Regions from separate parts of the Homo sapiens genome. Here region 1 is linked to region 2. A link means that fine-mapping ties the variant in region 2 to the expression of a gene that starts in the linked region. Tissue or cell type: whole blood. Region 2 holds a variant in brackets; the other region holds the start of a gene. All regions are shown on one strand. Distances are from middle to middle.

Region 1 (8,197 bases), 92 kb after region 2:
TTGAAACCAAGACGAGTGCAACAATGAAAAACGCTTAGAACCCACGGGCTGGCAGCCAGGGCGTTCGGACTTGGTATGGGCGTATCAACAAATGCAGGGTTCCCCACAGCGATTTACAGCAGAGACTCTAGTAGAGATTTACAGCAGACTGGAGCACTGCGCTCTTGCAAATGCAGAAGTTTGGGGTGGGGAAAGGTAGAAAAGAAAAAAAAGAAGAAGAAGGAGAAAGTGACATATTCAAATGCGATTCAAACATTCCAAGCTGCTCTTTTGACCTCAGAAATTTTACCACGATTTGGGTGATCCTAATGGTCTGTGGACCACGTTGGAAAATGTCACAATAGATGTTTGAATTAAAATCCAGTAGGTTTGCCAAAAGACCAATTGTTAAAAATTGGCAGCATTCCAGAGAACTTACTAGGCTGTGTACTGCCCCGGGGCTGAGAGAACTGCTAATTCCAGAGAAAGTTAATTATCACCTTATTGATAAAAGGGTAATTTTTAAAGCTTGTGGTGTGGCTTTTGTGACTCATTAATTAAAATTTAGAGTAATTTACTAGATACCCTGGTGGCTTCTGTTATATGATATCTGTACCAAGCCGTTTAATGTCTCTCCCAGGGGCTGATTTAATCCCCCTCTTCTCTCCTCACCTGTCTGCTTTTGAAGGCAATGAAAACATTAAAAAATGTGTAAATCTAAAACTAGCCTTTTGAGAGATGGCAGAATTAAGAAATAAGATGTCTAGGGAGGCATTGTTTAAAAGTTCCTTCTTAGAAACATCAGATGTGCCCACCAAAAGAAAGAAGCTTGTGTGATCACACCAAAGGCAACTGCTTTCACAAACTTCATCCACAAAATGTTAGACAAGATTTTACGCTCCATGATAATCAGATTAAAAGAGGGTCTTTTCTCATCTCCTTTCCCTTCTTTCCCATTCCATCCCCACATAAAATCTGAGGGCTCAGGGGAAGAATGACACTGGAGATGCTTGGTATCCTAAGGCTCCCAGCCCAATGAGGGGTAGTGTCACCTGCCACGCTCTTCAGGACTTGTGGAGTGGGATGGGCACATCCCGGCTCCCTGGCATCTACCCATGTGATATTGAGGTTTCCGAGGGCAGGGACTTGGGGAGGAAAATTGTCCTGCAGATCCCTAACAGGGCCCCTGTGAGGGCTTTCAAGCTCCAGCCACCACCTCTGCCTGGACCAAAAGTTCTTTAAGGTGCGTGTCATAAAGGATGTGTGGACACATGTGTGATGTGTCCTCAGGCCACACAAAATTGTAAACAGACCTACGAAGCACTCTAACATTTAAGCCCCCAGACTCCCAGAAAGGTTATTCCTCTCCGAGCATTCCTTGTTATGATTTCAGGGAACTTCAGTTATGTTTCCTTAAAAGTATTGAAGTATTTGAGATCCAAAATTGAGATTAAAAATACATAAACAGCAGAGATGATTTTCTCATCATTTCAAATTTTAAAAATTAAAAAAGTCTATCTTTGTACTTTGGGGTAGTGCTTGAATTTTTTAATAGGAAAGTGTTACTGAGTATTTTTTTAAAGTCAATATTGTTTTGAACTCTCATTATAAAAGTTCTTGCAGCAAGTGACAGTATTTGGGTCTGGCTTGTTTTCTGTGGGCTGAGCTGCTTAGCTTACCTGCTGCTTGCTAGAGGAGACAGCCTTTCACCCTCACCCCCAGGAGTCAAGAACCAGAAAGTGAAACTGCTTCTGCTGATTTCCCTCGCCTCGAAAACACACCACCAAAAGCAAAGAAATGATGAAAAGCAACTTACTCGTTTCGCTTATTGTTTTCTTGTCTTTCTATTACCGTTCATTTACTCTTTTCTTTTTTTCTTTTCTTTTTTTTTTTTTGCAGCAAAATAAAAGTAATTTTGGGGACACAGGGAAGAAATGTAAACATGTTATACATGAAAGAACTGGATTTTTGTGGGCTTTGCACTTTTGTTATAATTCCACAAATGAAGCAAACTGATGAATTTACCAAAATATTTCAGAGCTCATCTACGTACACAATTTAAAGAGCTAAAGAAAACACATTCATATTTTTTAAAAATTCTGTCAAAAAGCCTGTTTAAAAGTTATAGTTTGTGAAGCCACCAATTTCCCTAAAACTGAAGATTCTACATTAACCTTTTGAGTTTAGACGATCACGCAGTACCGATTTTCTAGGTAATCTTCACCCAGCTGCTGTTGCTCAAACAGCCCCTCATTTTATCAGACTAGTTCTACCAAGCAACACAAAAAATGCTCCACACAAATATTATACCCCCCAGATAGTTTAACACACTAAGAATTCCTTTGTAGTTATTTTTATGCTTTCACTCCAGATATTCTATTTTGCTTTAAAAAAAAAAAAGTGGAGAAAAAAAGCAGCTATATCCCTCATTCTTCAAAAATGGTTCCTCTGGTTGAAAAGAAAGAAAAACAGCATATAACAAATACCCTGATTCTGAAGTGCCTGGATTACTTTCTCAAGTACTGTAGTGTCTGAGATCAGTAAAAAACCACTTTCTCAGAAAGCCACTGATTGTCTAACCCTCATGAGTACCGTCATGGAATCTAGAGACAACACGAGGAGACACCTCTCGTTCACGATCACAGATAGTGGAAAGAACTTTGACTCAAGCACCTCAACTCAGCAAAACAGCTCAGCAGCCTGCACCCTGGCCTCATCCACCGCTCCTGTCCAGCCAGCAATCAACCTGGAGAGGACCCCTCATGCTTTGGGAGGAGCACGTGGAAGCTGGTTCAAGTCACAGTGCTCCACCTGGGAAGGAGGTGATTTTGAGCTTGGGAAAACTGCCGCTAATACTCCATAGTCACCAGTTTTTTTCCCAAAAAACGAATTAAAACCAGAAACTAGCAGTAAATATTATTCTTATTTATGCCTCATAAATTAGGAAAAACCAGCACAAAGACATGTGAAATATTCTACCTGGGATATTTGAAATAAAATTAAATGGGAAAAAAAACACTTTTACATGTTCATAACATACCAATTTTAATAACCAAATTTTAGGTAAATATTTTTATCCCAAGACATAGTACAATTTTTTTAAAATTAAAAAGCAAAACAAAGCAAAATTATCGTGAAGGGAAAAAATAACTAACCGGTTACTTGAGTTCACATTTGGAAAAAAATAACTTTCTAGGTATTTAAATGCAGAGTTAAAGAGTAATGAACATGTATATAGCCCAAATTTATAAACTATATAATTCAATGTTACATTTTCCCCTCTGAGATCTGGTTAATAAATTAAATGCTGTACTTTGCATATGAGGAACTAAAGTTTACCTACTGGACTCAGTGGTTTTAGTGCAGGACACTCTTGTGCGTTGCCATAGAGGTAGGCATGCAACCCAGAAAAAACTGAAACAGGTAACCTGTCATGCTGACAGTTACAAGAGAAAGATCCCGTGTCAACGGCACGCCTCCAATTGTGCATCTCCCTTACCTACAGCTTGTTCACCAGAGCCCTGAGCAGGTTGTTTACCAGGTCGGGAGTGTTGACTCAGAAGACAGATGACTTTCAGCACATGCAAACCGAGTATTGCAAAAGCTATCTTCCACCCGTGTTAGTAGCTCACAGTTAGTCTCCAGCAGCCCTGCGCTCCAGCTGCAAACATCTCATTAGACTAATGCATTCAGCACAGGCAGAAAACTCGATTTACCATAGCTACAGCAATGAATTTCCATTACGATGACAGCTTCAACCACATCATGTCCGGAAAACCAGCCAACCACTGGCTTTTAAAGAACACACACATTTTACATGCAGAAAACGAGGCCTCTGTGTGTGTGTGTGTGTGTGTGTGTGTGTGTGTGTGTGTGTGTGTGTGTGTGTGTTTTGTGTTTCCTTCCTCTTAGCAGCCTAAGAGAAATGTGCAGTGTAGCTTTTTGTCGACATGAGCTGCAAGGTAATGACACTTCTGCTTCTTTGGTAGTTACATCCTTGTAATAACCTGAATTATGTCACAATGGTTAGAATGGGTGTTTCCAACATTTCAGTTTTCATTACCCCTCCTCTGTTGCCATAGAAACCAGACTGTAACATCGTCTCTTTGTCCCAATCCTGCAGCAGTGTGGGCCAACACCAGGCTTATAAGACACTGGTGATCTGACAGAGTGAATGTTTGACTTTGGACAAATAAAACAAAAAGAAATATTACAATAGCATCATTGTTCAGGAGACCCTGTGTGATTCCCAGAGCAGTGTGCCTATCCAGGTGTGTGCACACACCATGGTTGTACATATTAAATCAGCGGCTGCCCACAACATATGTGTACAGTTCATTAAAGCCGGCCCTGACTTTGGCTCCAGGCCTGTATGTGTGTGTGTGTAAGCATCTCTACCCACCTCAACGTGGTGGGACCTGCACAGGATAGAAACAGGGCAAGAGTGACTATTCATTCCCATGCCCCATTGCATTTTCTGCAGCAAATCAATATATATCGGCGAAGGGATCTTTTCTTTTCCTTTCTTTTTGTAAAGTGGAGCAGGGCTCCCCATTGCCCATTTCATCCACTCTGGGATATTGGCATATTCACAGGTATTTCCTACAAGATGAAACATCCATTCTACAAACATGTGGCTTACTCCTAGGGATGAGCAGCAAACAAATTTAGCCGGGACTAAATATCAACCAGGGCTAACGAAGGCTTAGGCCACAACCTGGCCAGTTACTGAGAGTGAAAAAAACTGCAATGGACAACTTGAGGTTTCTCTAAATATATGTGTAGAGTCACATTAGAAGTACATAAGAAATCTCTCCTCTGAAATTTATTATGAAAATATAAAAAATTGTTTTAAGTCAAAGCCTTGTAATTAATTGAGCAAGAAGAAATTCACTACTTTAGTTCATTTAATCATCAAATTTTGTTGTTTTGTATGGGAAAAGGCAGGTTTGGTAGTTTGCATTTTCATTTCATATAAGTTGATTTCACTAAAGAAGGAGGAAGAGGAGAAGAAAAGAAAATAAGATGGATGGGCCAGGTGCAGTGGCTCATGCCTGTAATCCCAGCACTTTGGGAGGCCAAGGCGGGTGGATCACGAGGTCAGGAGATCGAGACCATCCTGTGAATGGTGAAACCCCGTCTCTACTAAAAATACAAAAAATTAGCTGGGCGTGGTGGCGGGCGCCTGTAGTCCCAGCTACTTGGGAGGCTGAGGAGGGAGAATGGCGTGAACCCGGGAGGCGGAGCTCACAGTGAGCCGATACCGTGCCACTGCACTCCAGCCTGGGTGACAGAGCGAGACTCCATCTCAAAAAAAAAAAAAAAAAAAAGAAAATAAGATGGATGGGCTAGGTGTGGTGGCTCATGCCTGTAATCCCAGCATTTTGGGACTCCTGGACTTGAGGTTAGGAGTTCGAGACCAGACTGGCCAACATGGTGAAACCCCATCTCTACTAAAAATACAAAAATTAGCCAGGCTTGGTGGCGCTTGCCTGTAATCCCAGCTACTCGGGAGGCTGAGGCAGGAGAATCGCTTGAACCTGGGAGGGAGAGGTTGCAGTGAGCTGAGATCACGCCATTGCACTCCAGCTTGGGTGACAAGAGTGAAATTCCATCTCAAAAAAAAAGAAAAAAGAAAGAAAAAGAAAAGAAGAAAAGAAAAGAAAAGAAAGAAAAGAAAAAGAAGAAAAGAAAAGGAAAGAAAAGGAAAGAAGATGGATGATTTAAGTTTGGACAGCATCTCTGTCCCAGCGACAGCGGTTATTATACTCACACCCGTGGCCTCACACATGCCACACTACACTGAGCTTAAAGCACCTGGAATGGGCTGAGACATTAGACCAATTTTCACTCTAAAATGTTTCTTAGGATTAAAAAAAATAACATTTCTTAAGTAATCAGAAATAATCTCCAAGTCCTGTAAAAGAAGTAAAAGGGTTGGCAGAATCTACCCATAAGAAAGGAGTTGCTGGTTTTCCTACCCAGCTCTGTGAGGGTTTCTCACTCTGATCCTCAGGCCCAACCTCCTTGCCTCCTCCCAGATGGGCTACTGTTGTCCTTGTCCTCAAGGTGGGTGCATGTGGGAAGCACCCATTGTCATCTAACAGGTCAACTTGGTAATAAAGCCTAAAATTGAAATCAACAAAAGCTGGATTGCTTGGGCGCGGTGGCTCACGCCTGTAATCCCAGCACTTTGGGAGGCTGAGGTGGGCAGATCACAAGGTCAGGAGATCGAGACCATCCTGGCTAACACGGTGAAACCCCGTCTCTACTAAAAATACAAAAAATTAGCTGGGAGTGGTGGCAGGCGCCTGTAGTCCCAGCTACTTGGGAGGCTGAGGCAGGAGAATGGTGTGAACCCGGGAGGCGGAGCTTGCAGTGAGCCGAGATCACGCCACTGCACTACAGCCTGGGCGACAGAGCGAGACTCCGTCTCAAAAAATATATATATTTTTTATATATATGTATATATTTAAGTAAACAATATTTATTTACTTAAATATGTTATTCAAAATATTTGATATTTAATAAATTATTCATTAAATTATGTAATTTAATAAATTTAATAAATATGTAAATATATTTATTTAAATATATCTTTATATTTTTATTTAAATATATTTACATTTTTATTTAAATATATATTTACATTTTTATTTAAATATATATTTGTTTTTTACTTAAATGTATATTTTTATTTAAATATATCTTTATATTTTTTACTTAAATTTTTTTATTTAAATATATCTGTATATACACACATTTATTAAAATATATATATTTAAACTTACTGGGATTTCTTTCTTCATGCAACCAGGAACATAGCTTTTAATAACTTAAATCAATATTTTAAAAAATCCTAAATGTTTTTAATTCCAAGAAAAATTTAAGTTAAACATGTAAGAAAAAAGAAATTTGATGGGATGACTGGTATTAGCTGAGGGACCTGCTAAGAAGAAAAGTGACCGCTCTGAGCTAGCATCTCTCTAAGTCTTGTACATCCCTGTCCCATGAAAAGGGTGCTTAGGTTGTGCCACGTTGTTAATTTTCTTTGCACTGTGGTTACATTTCTGTCTCAGACCACAAGCAGCATGTTCCACTCTCTCCACACGAGTGCTACTGGGCTGGTGGTTAGCAGGAGGCAACCAGAGGGAGCAAGTTAATTTGGGGGCGTCCCAAATGCAAATCTACTTAGAGTAGCCTCCATTTGAAGAGTAATCCTTCTGTCAGCTGCTGGTAAAGACACCGTTCACATTGAAAATGGCCTTTGTCCTAAAGAGTTGTGTTTTCCAACACAAGCATCCGATCGAGAGGATTCTGTCTTGGACTGGCAGTCAGTGCTACCGCCGAAACAACCTTTGTTATAACAGTGATAGCTAACATTTACTGAAGAATTATGTGTGAAGCCCTTCCCATTTTGTATCCCATTTATGACAATCCTATGAAGTAGGTATTATGATACCATTCCCATCTTACAGATAAGGAAACTGAGACTTAGGGATGTTAAATAACTTGCCCAAGGACACACAGCTTAGAAGTGGTAGACACAGGTCTGACCCAGGCAGTCTGTGCCCAAAGATACTCTAATTAATCATTCCACCTCATGGATCCTGGCACTGCCACTTGTTCCAGCCCTACCACTAACCCAATGACATGGGTGAAATCATTGACTTTCTATAACACGGGACAAGGAAATAAGGGACTAGATCATCTTTGTGGTCACTTATGGCTCTGACATTTCACAAGCCTAAGAACTGCTTTATCTCTAACTCAAAACATCGGTCTGCTGAAACAGGATGACGCTTTGGGTTGGAGGAGTGCTTAGTTGTGATTATGGATATGGCCATAATTACAAAGGGGCAAAAAGTGTCCTTTCTCTCATTAGGATAAGACCTAGTAAACTAGAGCTTTGGATATCAATTTGGAGCAAAGGTAGGGAGGAGAGAGCATGGAGAAAGAACACGAAGAAAAGCTAAGATTCCATTTCTGTAGTAAGGAAGGGAGAACAGCCTCCCACACTCCAGAGGCCCCACAGCTTCCCTTCCACATCATTCAACACAAGTTTGAGAACCTTAGGGGCTATGGAAAGCATAAGGCTTATGATTACCATTTTGCAGCAAATAGTTAACCTAATTAGTCAGACTACACAAGAGTGGGTGCCAGATCTCTTGACTCCCCAGTCTGTCGCTTCTTCAACCCAAAGGCCTGCCTTTCATGG
Region 2 (8,197 bases):
TGAGCTGAGGTTGCATCACTGCACTTCAGCCTGGGCAACAAGAGCAAAACTCTGTCTCAAAAATAAATAAATAATTATAAAGAAAGAAACTACTGATGCCCGTGGGTGAGATCAAAGGTAATAAAAGCTAACCTCTGGGCTGTGATCCAAATGAATTATCAGAAGGGAAAATAGGCTTCGGAGGGCATCAAGCAATACCTTCTACCCAGGCAAAGGATGTGCTGGTGGTTCCAAAGTCTGCCCAGGTGGACAACTGTCAAGACAAATCAACCAAGCCCCAGATGTGGCTCTGTAAAGTGGCTCCTGGGTGGCCGCGAGTGAACAGCACGTTCAGATGCACACACTGTGGTGGCTTCCAGAATTGATGAAATGGATCTGTTCAAACCCGATTGAAACTGCATTTTCCGCACTTTTCTATAGAGGGGTTCTGATACATCATAGCTAAGCGTAAAAGTGACAGATGCATGGATGGCCCTCATCATTCGGTGGCAGGAAGGAAAAGGACCTTCACAAGCACCCAGCCCAGCATTTCCCCAAATGTTAAATGCTTTCCACTGGCGGGACAGGGAACCACATGGGTATATTCATTTCCTAGGATTGCAGAAACTAACAAACCGGGTGGTTTAAAACGACAGAAATTTATTCTGCCATAGTTCTGGAGCCTACCAGTCTGAAATCAAGGTGTCCACAGGGCCAGGCTCCCTCTCAGGACTCTAGGGGAGAATCCCTCCTGGCCTCTTTCTAGCATCCCCTGGTGGCCAACAATCTTTGGAGTTCCTTGGCTGGAGACAGCGCTCCAATCTCTGCCTCCACTGTGGTGTTTTCTCTGTGTGTCACGATCTGTGTCCAAATTTCCTTCTTCTTCTAAGGACACCAGTCATGGGATTAGAGCCCTAATTCAGTATGACTTCCCTTTCACTTGATTACATCTGCAAAGATCCTATTTCCAAATAAGATCCCATTTCCAAAAAGGGTTCCAGATACCCGAGAATTTGAACATACACGATTCAGCCTACGACAACCAGTAAATGTTTTTTTATTGTCATGTATTTCAATGTACATCCACGACATATAATTAGCACATCAAACAAAATGATTTCACTGATACAGTATGATTGCTTAAGCTGACTAATGGCTAAGATTAAAAGACATGAGTTAATGTAAAGGAATATCTTGAGTAGACAGTTCTATAAGTGTTACTCAGACACAGTAGAAATTGTGAAGGTGGTAAATTAATATTTGGAATGCATTGAGCTAGCCCCAACCTATCTCTTCAGGCAGGGTGTTGTCTAGAAAAGAAACTATGGTAGATAACTGAGTCTTTTATTTGAAAGCTTCCCCAAAGAGATTTTACAATCTCCTTTAGAGTGAGGCCATTGTGCTATGAATCTCATTGCCTAAAAGTTCCTCCTTACATCTAGCCTCAATTCTTCTTGCTTCAGTTAAAACACATGACTGCTGGACATGTACCCTTTACACTATCCAACATGTTAGGTCACCTCAACATCCAACATGAGGCAGATGAATTCTAGGTATGCAGAACTACTAGGAGCTTAAGAATTTAATTGAACTGTGACATATGTTTCTTACCTAAATCCAATATTTAAAGTCAGTAAAAAGAAAGGACCAAGTCTGTATCTGGAGAGGGAACCCCCACTTTTCAAGCGCTTTTGTGGCTGACTGGTGAGCAAACACCAGATGGGGCCAGCCGACCTGTTGGAGGATCTAACTCCTGCACACAGAGTCCCGGCAGACCGTAGGGCTCACAGGCGAAGGCACTCATGGTCGAAATTTCCTCCTGTGTCCATACAAAATCGTTTTCCATCTGAAAGAAGCTGTCTTGTCACCCTGGCACTGCTCATCAACAAGAGGCTCCAACCCAGCCTGTGTGAGGCCATTTAATTGCAGTGGAGAATGCCAGCTTAACAAAGCAAGGTAAATGAGTGGCTTTTTACTCACTTCTGTAACCCTCTGCATCCAGCCAAGAGACTAATGTTGCCATTTAAGAATCATTAAATCTTTTCCTCCAGAAAAAAAGAATGATCTGCCTTTTGCACAGTCACGAGAGCATGCTTAAATAGAAAGGAAAACACACACGTGGCCCCATCAAAGAAATCTGCCACATTTTCAAGGTTTGGCGTCCTGGGAGCTTTCAGGACAGACTGATGGTCCTTTTTCACCATCGCTAAACCTGCTTGTGGACTATGGTTCCCTCCAGCCACTGTGTATAAAGCCTGCCTATTAGTGAGGCCAAAGAACACTCTAGAAGCATGTAAACCCACTCAAGCCTCAAGGCATACCTGTTTGCATATGAACCTGAACTGTGCCTAAGCCTTCCGGTTTAGGGATCAAAGCTTCAGGGTTCTGAGTCCAGAGTGTGTGGATTCCTCCCTTGCTCCCTGATCCTTGCTGAAGCCTGGGGTGGAGATAGGGTTAGGTAATGCCCCTGCATCCATGGCTTCCAGGACACCCAGGTGCAGCCCATTTCTGCTACAGTCCTGGAGGGTCAGGTGTGAGCCCCTGAAATGTAGAGAACCTCCAAAGAGAGAAGCAGAAAGAGGAAGAGGTGCAGGAGAAAGCCACGAGCCAGAGAGAGAAAGAGAAAGTCCCAAAACAGAGCGGCAGGGAGGGGAAAACGGACCTTATGTATAAAACTATAGATGCTCCTGACCAAGTGTCAGCTCTCCTCACTTAGGACACAAGGCTTAACTGCTTACAGCCCAGTGGGCTCGGACTATTGATTTTATTTTTAAAAACTAAACTGGCATTTTACCTGGATTCACTAACCAAATGAAGTCCTGAAACACAACAATTCCACTATGCAAAATTATTCTCACATAATACCTATTAAGGCAATAAGAACCACAACATCTAGTCTTAGACACTATTTGTCATCTCTAAACAGTTCTGCCTGTTTGTCTTTCTCTCTCTCTCTCACCCCCCACTTCCCGCATCAGTCTTCCCAGTTGAGGGAGCAGCTGCAGAGTGAGCCCTTTCCACAATCAGCACGACCACCTTCCTCCAGACTGGGAGCCCTGGCCTTGCTCAGGATTGATTGCCTGACCCCTTTGCCGGTCTGCCCAGCCCTGCCGACCCCCACACCCTGCCCAGGCAATGGTCAGTGTCCTGTGGCCTCCGTGTGTGAACAGTTTGGTTCGGCTTGCTGACAGAGATGGCAACATCAGAGATTCCTAGCCCTGAAACCCAGATTAGAAAAGGCAGGAGTGCAGTTCGCAGATTTGTAGAGCTGTGGAGCAGCTACCCCTCTTTGCTTAGCCAGGTGCCATCACCTAGATAGTACAGGAAAAGGAGACCTGCGAGGAGAGGGGCAGGAGGGAGAAGGCGCAGGAAGCAGTAGCAGGTGCTCGTGCCAGCTGCACCTCTTTTACTCAGAGCCCAGACACAGGTGCTTCGGTGCCTACCTTGGTGGTTGTGTCTCTGCCACCCGGCAGCCTCTCCCACTGTCCTCTGGGGGACCGCCGGTTTCCAGCACGTGCTTGGTGCTGTGGGATGCAGAGGGGCCTTCTGCTGTGAATCTCTAACGGACTTCCTGGTGACCAAAACCTGAAGGTTTCCTC[C/T]CCTGCATGCAGCCTTTCACTGAGGCTCCTGTGGAGGTTTGCAGATTTTCTTTTCTCAAACTCAGTCCCGCCCCTTGTTCTTGCAGATAAGGGAGTTTTCCCTTAGGGCCCTCTGTGGCCTCCTGGCCCAGCCTTTCTGGTTCAAAGGGCACAGGGCCATACTACCTATGAGGCTGAGCATTTCATTTGCTTCAATTAAATTTTCCATTAACTTGGTCTCTGGCCAGTATGGATTTTCTCTCTAAGGTTGTCTCTGCAGTTCAGATCACTCAGCCCTGAGAATCAACCTTATGACTCCCCTCTGGTCCATTTAAGTACATTTCTATTTTTTCTCCCCTAATGAGATGCACAGCAACCGACCATAATTTTAATGCCTGACACCTGAACTTCTTACATCCTCTCAGATGTTTCTGGTTTGCCTAAGACTTTGTTCTAAGCCTAGGGGTTGATTTCCTCCTTTGGAAATTTTGACCAAAGGCATTTTTGACCAAAGTCATCTGTTTGGGATAATGAATGGCCTTTCTGTGCTCTCGGGAGGAGAGCAGGTTCCATACCACCCTCCATATGATCTCGCAGCTTTGCCAAACCTCCACGCCAAGCTTATGAGAATTCCCGAGAGCTGGGGGAGGCGAAGTGGGTGGGACATCCTGTGGTCACGCTGTTTCCTCCACAGCCCCCACAATTTTTTGGTCTTTCATAGAACCTTGGGGAAATTAAAAGTGGTCCTTAATCAGGAAAATGCTGAAGTTCCTGGAATAGAGGACGCCTTGTAAGTTTCCTTTCTAAATGGACATCTCGACTTTGAGAGAGGTTCACAGCACTCCTAGCATTGCTCACTCTGGTGGAGCAAGTTGCTGTGCTGTGAGATGCTCTGCAAAGGGACCCATCTGGCAACAAACCAACAGCTCATTGGAAACTCAGTCCTGCTGACAACCATGTGAAAAAGCTGGAAAAGTGGGTCCTGCCCTAGTTGAGGTTTGAGATGCAGCCTTGTGAGAGATTCAGAACCAGAAGGCCTGTGGCTGCACCTGGTCCCCTGACCCACAGAAGCTGTGAGACCCTAAATGTTATTTTAAGCCCCTAAGTGTTGGGGGTAATTTATGACACAGCAAAAGATAACTATTGTGGACAGAAGAAAGGAAGCCGTTTCATTCCTCTTGATTCTGCATGTCCAGATTGGAAGTTGTCATTATTAACTCAGCAGTAGCTAGGATAGATCTGGTACAGAGTATCTGCCCACTTCTCTGCCAGGGAGTTTATGTTTGTTTGTTGTAGTTTTTTTCAGCAAAGGGTTTGTTGCTTATGAATGAAACACAGAAAGCACCACTATTAGGAGAGAGTTCATGAAGTTCATCTTAGAAGCCTACTGGTTTCCTAAGCTGCTTCAGCTCCTCTTGGCATGGTTTGCCATTCTAACCCTAGTTCTCAAGCATGGACAACAGATAATGGTGTGAGTAGCCTGCAGATAGCAGTACCTTAGGGTCCGCCACAGGGGCTCAGGGTTGTGGTCCAGGGGAATAACCAGAAGGGGTCTCTAATACAACCTGTGCAGGTCCTGGAGGCCTCGAATGGCTGCATCTCACATACCCTGTCCCTTTGTTTCCACCAGTCCTTGTGCTTCCACTGTTCTGAGGTATAATCAGAGAACTTGGTTTCCAACCCCTTGGATCTACTTAGATGCCTGGCCCATCTCCCGGACCTACTCTTCTGTCAGAGGCAGGAGCCTCTTTGGACAGGCTCATCAGAAACAGAACATCTTCTGCAGTGGACACAGACACAACTATTTGATAGAGAGGCTGGGAGACCCCCGGCCATCTGGCCAGCTCTAATGGCTCACGGAGAATCGAGGAGTGGGGGCGCCACATGAGGGACTGTTCGCCTCATGGAACACAGGAGATTTCCAGTAGATTTTGTTATTTGAGGAGTGGGCATAGGGTAGAGGTAGGGGTGTCTTTCAGAGGATTCCTGGGGTCAGCCTTCTAGGAAGAAGGAGTCCATTTGGCCTCTTTTTTTCAGGCTTTTTATCTCCTCCACACCCCCAAACAGTAGAAAGCCTGCAAGGGGTTTACCACCAGCATCATTCTACTCCTCAAGTCTCAGGTGCTGGCATCTTTAATCCACAAAATAAATTGTGATTTAGACAAGAAGAGTGTTCACTTCTTTTGTTTGTTTGTTTGAATACAGTTACTTTCTACCAAAATTTTATCAAAGGGGTCAACGTGACTCAATATTACTCTAGTTCATATTGAAGATACCTTGGGCGATTAAAACAACTTAATTGGAACATTCATTCATTGGTTAATAGTTATGGAGTAAATAACTTCCTCGGTATCTACAGGACATGAGAGAGAACCTGAGCCTTACAATGCAAAGGGATCCAATCAACTGCTGGACATAATAGAGAATCCATTTTAAATTCTACGAAATGCAGGCTTTTCTCTGGAGGCACCTTCTTTAAAAAAGAGATTACATTTTTCCCTTTTAGTTCAATATTTTAAAATATGTACAGATATCATAATTTAATGAAAGATATCACTGAAAATATAAAGCTTTTCCTAAATGAATTTACATAGGCACATGGGGAGAATTAGGATGAGGACTCCTACCCTGGAGAACACTCCCTATTCCATGGTGTAAGGGTTCTAGCTTGGCCTCTATGGCCCTAAGTGTCAGGAAAAATATGAAGGCTTTTGTATTTTCTACAAAACTGATGGACACTTTTTAGTTTCTTTTTGTTGTTGTTGTTGTTATTGTTGTGGTTTTTGAGAAGGAATCATGCTCTGTCACCTAGGCTGGAATGCAGTGGCACAATCTCAGCTCACAGCAACCTCCACCTCCTGGGTTCAAGAAATTCTCCTCCCTCAGCCTCCCGAGTAACTGTGATTACAGGCATCCACCACCACACCTGGCTAAGTTTTGTATTTTTAGTAGAGACACGGTTTCACCATGTTGGCCAGGCTGGTTTCAAACTCCTGGCCTCAAGCAGTCCACCCACCTCGGCCTCCCAAAGTGCTGGGATTACAGGCGTGAGCCACCGAGCTCAGCCTCTTTTTCAACCTTTTCATCAAAACCTTCTGCAAGGATTCTTAAGACCAGAGCTTGTCAATAGTTTATTCTCCTTCCAAATGACCTCCTTTCCAATGCTCAGCTTGAGAATGAGACAGCTCATTTGTCCATGTGGCCCTTGGCTGTGACAAACACAGCTCCACAATGTTCCAGTCATGTGGCCTGCACTGGGACACAAGCAGGTGCAAAGGCATCTGCAGGAACGCACCTCTCTTCATTCCTTTCCTTTCTTTCTGTTTTTGAGGGCGGGGGGATTCCAGTTCTGTTTTTTTTTCTTCAAGTTTTTTTTATTGTGGTAAAACACATATCACATAAAGTCATGGCCCGACACAGTGGCTCACTCCTGTAATCCCAGCACTTTGGGAGGCTGAGGCAGGTGAATTACTTGAGCTGAGGAGTTCGAGACCACCCTGACCAACATGGCAAAACTCCATCTCTATTAAAAATACAAAAATTAGCCAGGCATGGTGGCAGGCTCCTGTAATCCCAGCTACTTGGGAGGCTAAGGCAGGAGAATCACTTGAACCCTGGAGGTGGAGGTTGCTGTGAGCCGAGATCACGCCACTGCACTCCAGCCTAGATGATGGAGCAAGACCTTGTCTCAAAAAAAAAAAAAAAAATTATCATCTTTACCATTTCTAAGCATACAGCTCAGTGATATTAAATACATTCAAAATGTTGCATAACCATCATCAGCATCTATCTCCATAACTCGTCTTGTAAAACTGAAACTCTATACCCATTAATCAAGAACTCCCCCTTTATTTCTTTTCTTTTTCTACCCATCATTCCACATATTAATTCAAACACTAGATCAAACTCTGCCACTGTCTGGTGGAGTAGGCTACTTGTGTGGGTTTTGTAGAAATGAGGAAGTTCCCTGGCAGCTGGAATGATGGGCTGTGCCTGCCCCGTGGTTGTCATCCAGCCCCGATGTAGCCAGAACACAAGGACACGGGGAAAACATCCCGTGTGGGAAAGGCAGGAAACCCAGGAGGAGAAGAGAATTGATCTTCCTAGAGTGTAGTTTCCTCCTTGATTTTGCTAAATGAGGGCTGGGGTTTGTTCTGTTCTTTCACATCTTTGCTAGAAGCAACACAGGTGTACCACAAGCCCCTTGTGGACATCTATTGTGTGCAGTCAGCCCTCTGAGCTGAGAAACAGGGATGCACACCCCACGCAGCCAGTGCTGGATAACGGGCCTTACAGACAGCAGAAAAACTTGGAATAAGGAAAAACTTGGAGAGGAAAAGCAAAGGGCCGGGGATGAGAAGACCTGCTCTCGGTTTCCTCCCTGCTGCTATCTTGCTGTGTGTGTGGCTCTAAACAAGTGACCTGGGCCCTGTGCGCCTCGCTGCATTACCAACAGGGGAGCTCAGCACTATCTGCCAACTGACTAAATGGATGGGTCCATGTAATGAAACTCATGCCTCTTGATGAACTCTGTTCCCTTTTAAAAATAAATGATCTTTTGTAAAGATAGACATTCTCCATATATTCTCTGTAATGTTATTCTACTAGATAAATGTGTTGTTGGATAGGAAGCAGGTTTC

The links. PIP is the estimated chance that this variant, and not a neighbour inherited with it, causes the effect.
Region 1: it holds the start of SCML4, and the variant in region 2 is fine-mapped to the expression of SCML4 in whole blood (TOPMed, PIP above 0.99).

Annotation. Positions count from the first base shown.
Region 1 is chr6:107,820,648-107,828,844 of GRCh38, forward strand. SCML4 (Scm polycomb group protein like 4) reads right to left here and starts at 3,666. Exons shown (of 8, transcript NM_198081.5): 1 at 3,479-3,666. RefSeq lists an enhancer at 1,749-1,818.
Region 2 is chr6:107,728,552-107,736,748 of GRCh38, forward strand. The region is part of intron 5 of SCML4 (Scm polycomb group protein like 4); the gene reads right to left. Among named protein-coding and RNA genes, the nearest start is that of SCML4, 92 kb to the right of the region's middle. The variant C/T (reference allele first, on the strand shown) is at 3,579.